Homo sapiens: one gene and its partner. The protein of the gene in region 2 purifies or fractionates together with the protein of the main gene of each other region. This does not show direct contact. Each region holds a gene or a part of one and is shown on either strand. Other genes may lie near its edges.

Region 1 (3,648 bases), on a different chromosome or scaffold from region 2:
ACCCAGCCCTGATGATCAGGCACCTGCCTTGTGGACCAAGTTTCTTGTCAGTGCAGAAAAGGAGGTAGTCAAGCAACCTGGCACAGATATGGCATTTAAAATATTAGTGGCCTGGGTGGTGATCATGTCCCTCTCAGCTTTATCCCTTCTAGACTTAAGTGTCGAGAGTAATGTTGTTCTTAGCTTTTCTTTATGGAACCCCAGCATGTATACCTCCAGTCTGTCCCGGGCCTTCTCCCGCTCAGTCTGTCCGTCTCTCCCTTTCTCTTGAGGTGTGGCCCTGGCCTGCCCCCAGTATTCCCATCAGGGTGCCACCTCCCAGTGTCTGCACAGCTCCTGGCGGCGGGCAGTTTGCCATGTCACTGAGTAACAGCTTCTCCCTTGGGACAAAACCAGTTTTCCCAGTCATGTGGCCCTTTTCGGTGTGGGTGAGGTGTCCAGTGAGGACTTTGCTCCACGCCTGGTTTCTGTGGGCCGCACCCCAGCGGGAAGGCACCTCCCTTGTCAGGACTGCAGCCTGCACCCCCGCCCCATTCCAAGTTTGCTAGTCGGGGAAGCAACACAAGGTGCACATGGGTCAGGTCACCTGTGTTGTTGACTTTGAAGCAGCAGAAAGAGTTTTGTGTCCTGCATTCTGTTTTGAGAGTTGCCCTTGACCTCTGCCCAGGGGTATCTGTGGGGCTGGGCCACTTGGGTTTGAAATAGAACCCATCCCCTTTGAACTGGGAGTGAGAGTTCATAGAAAAAGCTGCTCTTGAGGCGCTCCTTGATGTTTGGGTAGCAGCCCCAAGGCAGACAAAGGGAGGGACATAAGCGAAAGGACAGTGGAGGGTCCTGGGAGGAGGAGTCTGCCACATGCCCTGGAACCTTCAGGCAAGCACGCCTAATACATTGGCTCCCGCTTGGGCAGCTGCGGGCCTTTCCGCAGAGATAGCTCCATTTGTGGCTAACCTTTTGGGGCCTGGGCTCGTGATGTTTCCTCCTTACATCACTTCTCTTTGTGTCCTAGTTAATTGAGACGGAAGGAGTTGGATGCTCTCACGCAAGCCTTTTTGTGGTCATTCATGGGGAACTTTGGGAGCTTTTTAAAATTATTCAAAAAGATTGTTTTTTTCCTTTACCAACTCCTGTACTTGTGAACACTGTGTCTGTGGGTTTGGCTCAAAAACTGGATTCTTTTTCCAGCCTCCCCCTCCTGAACCCAATTTCTTCCTCACTCCTACCCCACCCCATAGATATTTACATATGCAGAATGTCCACTGGGCAGTGTCTGTCATGTTTGGAGAGCACTTTTAAAGTCCTGGAGATTGGGGTGACACGGGGGAATTGGAAGAGTGTAGGATGGGGAGCCAGAAGGGGTTCCACTATCTGGAGGTGAGTCAGAGGAGGGAGAGAAAGCAGGGCCGGTATCATGTGAGGCCCTCAGGAGGGGCCTGGGATCCGTCCCCCCTCCTCCAGCTGCTCAGTGTTTGCTTGCCTCCGGCCTAGAGGTGTGGGACTGACGAGGGTGGGTCAGACCTTGTGACCTGGGACTCTGAGCCTGTTTCCAGCGGTTCTCATGGGGCTTTTGTAATAAAGTACTTGGAGGGTTCTCAGGCCACAGCCCAGGCCTGCCTGTGGGTGGGTCCCAGGTAGCTTGGGGCCACCCCTGGTTCAGAACCAAGGCCCTCTCCACGGTGCACAGCCACCGCCCTCAGCCTCAGGTGGCACTGACGCCCAGCTCACTGGGGCCCGGGGCCCAGCAGGCAATCCTGGGCCTGGGAGGGAGGGGATGTGGGTCTGTGCTCCCTGGGAGAGAGACTTCTGTGGTCAAGCAAGGTTTAGAAGTGCCCCAAGTGCTTCACAGCAGAGCTGTGTGGGTTTCTGGACTATGGGGCTTCCTGGAAGTTGTGCAGCGTTAAGCATTATGAATCCCCAAGATGGGGCTCTTCCTGCTTATGTGACCACAGCACCTTGTCGGTTTCTTCTTCTAAGAACACTAGTTCTGTTGGGAAATCTGGCGTAGATGTGTCCCGGTGTTAGTGGTAATGCCCTTAAACTCCTACCCCTCCCCCAGCCAGGTTAGACTGGAGCAAGCACAGTTCTTTCAGGGGGAGGATAAGGGATGGAACAAGAGGCCATGGCCCCCATGTCCTCCCAGGGTCTCACTTCGCTCACAGCAGTCAGGCCTTCGGTTCCTGTCAGCCTTGGCCAGCCCAGAGCCCTAGGAGGTCTCCTCTCAAACCCTGTGTTCATGGTGGGATTGGGGTTTGTTTGTAGGGAAGATGGAGAGTTGGAAGAAGGTGAATTGGAAGATGATGGGGCAGAGGAGACCCAGGATACCTCCGGAGGGCCTGAGAGAAGCCGGAAAGAAAAGGGGGAGAAGCATCACAGTGATTCGGATGAGGAGAAGTCCCACAGGAGACTGAAGCGGAAACGGAAGAAAGAGCGGGAGAAAGAGAAAAGGAGGTCGAAGAAGAGGAGGAAATCCAAGCACAAAGTAGGTCGGAGATCCCCTGGGACTGCCACTGCCTGGCATTGGGCCTGGCTGAGAGCCCCAGGGGCTGAGCTTTTGCTGTCCACCCCAGAGGGCACTCTTAATGCCTTTGCTTATCTCAAATTGGATAAAGACCTTTTTTAAAAGAGTTGGTAGCTTATGCTTCATTGCCACTAAGTGCCCCAGGTGAGGTGTTTCAGGTGAAGCGCAGAGCCCTGCGGCACATGCCAGCATAGTTTGTCCTGAGGCTGACTGTGCCCGAGTGGCCTGCCTGTGGCAGGTTGCTGAGTCTCCTTCCCCTGTCATTACAGCGCCATGCTTCTTCTAGCGATGACTTCTCTGACTTCTCAGATGACTCGGATTTCAGCCCCAGTGAGAAAGGTCACCGCAAGTACAGAGAGTACAGCCCCCCATATGCGCCGGTGAGTGACTGGCATGCACTGCTGAGCTCTGGGGCCGGGAGGAGTTCAACTGCTTGTGTTTCTTGAGCACTTGCTGTGTTCTGGGCATTTTTTGTGAGTTTCAGTCCTGGGCCATCAGGTATTAATTTAATCCCCATTTTATGAGTGAGGAAACTGAAACTTAGACAATTTCAACAAGGCAGCCCAGACAACCAAGTGAGACCCCACAAAAAATAAAAAAATTAACCAGGCATGCCTGTAGTTCCAGCTACTCAGGAGGCAGAGGTGAGAAGATCCCTTGAGCCCAGAAGTTTAAGGTTGCAGTGAGCTATGATCAGCCACTGTACTCTAGCCTGGGTGACAGACAGAGCAAGATCCTGTCTCAAAAGGAAAAGAAAATTTCAACAGGGTTGCCCAGCTCTCTGAAGTAAAGGAGCTGGGATTTGAACCCAGGCCCTAGCTGACCTCCATGAGGCATGTTCTCGAGCCTCCTCCATGCGGCCTTAGCAAGGCCCTGTATGTCTCAGAGAAAGATGCTGACTGGTCCACGTCACGGCTGACTGGCTTCCACTGTTCACAAATGACCTTTTTGGGAAATTGGCAAGAGAATGAAATGTTCTCAAGTAGCCAGTAGGCAGAGGTTAGATACTCAGCCACTGTCGCTCTCATTTCAAGCAGCAATTTAAATTATTTGTTCAGTTTGTATACCATTTCTTCCCCCAGAAAATCCCATAAGAGAAAAGCAAATCATTTTTTTTTTTTTTTTTTTTT
Region 2 (3,648 bases):
TCCTGACCTCATTATCTACCTGCCTCAGCCTCCCAAAGTGCTAGGATTACAGGTGTGAGCCACCACGCCCTGCAACATTAAATATTTTATTAATTTCATCTTTTTCAAGAAATCCCTCCTGGAGTCTTCTTACCTGTTTTAATCTGGACTAGTTGCTCTTAAGGCCAACTGTACGTCTTAGGATCTAAGATTCCTCTTGCCTCCGTCTTCTTTTCTTTTTTTTTTGAGACTGAGTCTTGCTCTGTTGCCCAGGCTGGAGTGCAGTGGTGCGATCTCAGCTCACTGCAACTTCCGCCTCCCGGGTTCAAGCGATTCTCCTGCCTCAGTCTCCTGAGTAGCTGGGATTACAGGTGTGCGCCACCACGCCCAGCTAATTTTTGTATTTTTAGTAGAAATGGGGTTTCACCATGTTGGTCAGGCTGATTGCCTCCCTCTTACGTTGTATTCCCTGTTGCTTGGATCCTATGTCTTTATGTTTTCATAGTCTATTTCATTACTTTGGTGGAGCACATTTTCTAGCAGCTGCCTGAGAAAGGCTGCATGGTGGATAAATAAGATCTTGCAAGTCTAAAAAGAAATATTTTATTCTCCCACTTCATTTATAATTTGCCCAGGTATTTAATTCTGTGATAGAAATAATTTTTTCCTCAATTAAAAGTACTGCTCAAAGTCTGGGCATGGTGGGTCATGCCTGTAATCTCAACACTTTGGGAGGCTGAGGCAGGAGGATCACTTGAGCAGGAGTTGAATACCAGCTGGGCAACACAGTGAGACCTTGTCTCTACAAAAACTAAAAAAAAGTGAAAATTAGCCAAGCGTGGTAGTGCACACCTGCAGTTCCAGTTACTTGGGAGTCTGAAGTGGGAGGATTGCATGAGTCCCAGAGGTCAAGGCTGCAGTGAGCCCTGATGGCGTCACTGTACTCTAGCCTGGGTGACAGAGTGAGACCCTGTCTCAGTGAATGAATGAATGAATGAGTGAATGAATAATAAAAGCACTGCTCTGTTGTCTTTGTAATTACTTTTTATTTTATTTTTTTTTTGAGACGGAGTCTCACTCTTTCGCCCAGGCTGGATTGCAGTGGCGCGATCTTGACTTACTACAACCTCTGCCTCTTGGGTTCAAACAATTTTCCTGCCTCAGTCTCCTGAGTAGCTGGGACTACGGGCGCCTGCCACCACGCCCAGCTAATTTTTGTATTTTTAGTAAAGACAGGGTTTCACCATATTGGCCAGGCCAGTCTCGAACTCCTGACCTTGTGATCAGCCCACCTTGGCCTCCCAAAGTGCTGGGATTACAGACCTGAGTCACTGCGCCCGGCCGTAACTTCCTTTTTTTTTTTTTTGAGACGAAGTCTCGCTCTGTCACCCAGGCTGGAGTGCAGTGGCAGGATCTCAGCTCACTGCAACCTCTGCCTCCTGGGTTCAAGTGATTCTTCTGCCTCAGTCTCCCGAGTAGCTGGAACTACAGGCACGTGCCATCACGCTTGGCTAATTTTTTGTATTTTAGTGGAGACGGGGTTTCACCATGTTGGCCAGGATGATCTCGAGCTCCTGACCTCATGATCTGCCTGCTTTGGCCTCCCAAAGTGCTGGGATTACAGGCGTGAGCCACTGCACCCGGCCTGTCTTTGTAACTTCTAATGTTGCTGTTAGGAAGCCCAGTGTTGCCAGGTGCCATGGCTCAGGCCTGTAATCCCAGCACTTTGGGAGGCCGAGGCAGGCAGATCACAAGGACAGGAGTTCGAGACCAGCCTGGTCAGCATGGTGAAACCCCATCTCTACTAAAAATACAAAAATTAGGCGGGCGGGGTGATGTGTGCCTGTAGTCCCAGCTACTTGGGAGGCTGAGGCAGGAGAATTGCTTGAACCCAGGAGGCAGAGGTTGCAGTGAGCCGAGATTGCGCCACTGTACTCCAGCCTGTGCGACGGAGTGCGAGACTCTGTCTCAAAAAAAAAAAAAAAGAAGCCCAGTGTTATTCTGACTCTTTTTTTTGAGATGGAGTCTCGCTCTGTTTCCCAGGCTGGAGTGCAGTGGCGCGATCACTACCTCTGCCTCCTAAGTTCAAGTATTCTCCTGCCTCAGCCTCCCAAGTAGCTGGGATTACAGACAGCACCACCATGCCCAGCTTTTTTTTTTTTGAGATGGAGTCTCGCTCTGTGACCCAGGCTGGAATGCGGTGGTGCGATCTCTGCTCACTGCAACCTCTGCCTCCTGGGTTCAAGCGATTCTTGTGCCTCAGCCTCCGGAGTAGCTGGGATTACTGGTGTGCACCACCATGCCCAGCTTATTTTTGGATTTTTAGTATAGATGGGGTTTCACCCTGTTGGCTAGGCTGGTCTCAAACTCCTGACCTCAAGTGATCTACCTGCCTCGGCCTCCCAAAGTGCTGGGATTACAGACGTGAGCCACCGCGCCTGGCCTATTTTGACTCTTGAGCATTTGTAAGAAACCCGTTTTTTCTGTTTTTAGTGCATATCAGATGTTATCTTTGATTCTAGAATTCTGAAATTTCACTATGAGAAGTCTTAGTCTTTCTTTAGAGTGCTTAATTTAAGAGGGAGAAGGTTGAATTTCCAGGACTTGACACATTAAAAAATCAATTATTGGCCGGGCGTGGTAGCTCACGCCTGTAATCCCAGGACTTTGGGAGGCCGAGGCGGGCGGATCCTGAGGTCAGGAGATCGAGACCATCCTGGCTAACACGGTGAAACCCCGTCTCTACTAAAAATACAAAAATTTAGCCGCGTGTGGTCGCGGGCGCCTGTAGTGCCAGCTACTCAGGAGGCTGAGGCAGGAGAATGGCGTGAACCTGGGAGGCAGAGCTTGCAGTGAGCCGAGATCATGCCACTGCACTCCAGCCTGGGTGACAGAGCGAGACTCAAAAAAAGAAAAAAAAAAAAAAGCTAAACAGTTATTGAGTAAGTGGATGGACATGAATGGAGGTCAGTGTAGGCTGTGAATTATGGAATTGTAAGACCTTTAGAAGTAATACTCAGGCTTAATTTTACAGAATCCGGAGGATAAAAGACTATGATGCCAACTTTAAAATAAAGGACTTCCCTGAAAAAGCTAAGGATATCTTTATTGAAGCTCACCTTTGTCTAAATAAGTAAGTGAACTCCCTATCTTTACCCATTCTGTTCTCAGCAGTTAGCTATTATTTTAGGCACAGTTTTTTTGTTTGTTTGTTTTTGTTTTGCACAAATTTGTTTTCTGCCTTCAGGTAAGAGATCTAGAGTGAGAGAACTTCCTATATTGGAAGTAATTAGTGACTGACGCTGTCTTTCACTCCCCTCTCTGCTTCTGGGAATTTCTACCATTTGGTCTGTCTCAGTTCCACCTGCAAGTGTTGGGACCTTGTGCCAGAATAGCTGCCTTTTTCACCCTATCTGATCCCTGAATTCATTCTGATCTTTTTTGTGTGTTTGTCTTACGTATCTTCATTTCCCTTTCCTTGGTTATTTTGAATATATTTCTTGTGAAAATTTCCAGCTCTCCCTCCACTTTTATTTTTTTATTTTTTATTTTGAGATGGAGTCTCGCTCTGTCGCCCAGGCTGGGAGTGCAATGGCGCAATCTTGGCTCTCTGCAACCTCCACGTCCCTGGTTCAAGCAACTCCCCTGCCTCAGCCTCCCAAGTAGCTG

Evidence for each region. Proteins that work in one complex are often made in the same cells at the same time.
Region 1: the proteins of MRPL45 (region 2) and ZC3H4 fractionate together in Homo sapiens (co-fractionation; one large-scale study listed by BioGRID). This does not show direct contact.

The regions. Positions count from the first base shown.
Region 1 is NC_000019.10:47,093,220-47,096,867, reverse strand, and holds part of ZC3H4 (zinc finger CCCH domain-containing protein 4), read left to right. Parts: exon of another isoform or gene 1-11; coding exon of another isoform or gene 12-64; intron 65-2,259; coding exon 2,260-2,479; intron 2,480-2,787; coding exon 2,788-2,898; intron 2,899-3,648. UniProt on the Homo sapiens protein: RNA-binding protein that suppresses transcription of long non-coding RNAs (lncRNAs). LncRNAs are defined as transcripts more than 200 nucleotides that are not translated into protein.
Region 2 is NC_000017.11:38,303,520-38,307,167, forward strand, and holds part of MRPL45 (large ribosomal subunit protein mL45), read left to right. Parts: intron 1-3,013; coding exon 3,014-3,112; intron 3,113-3,648.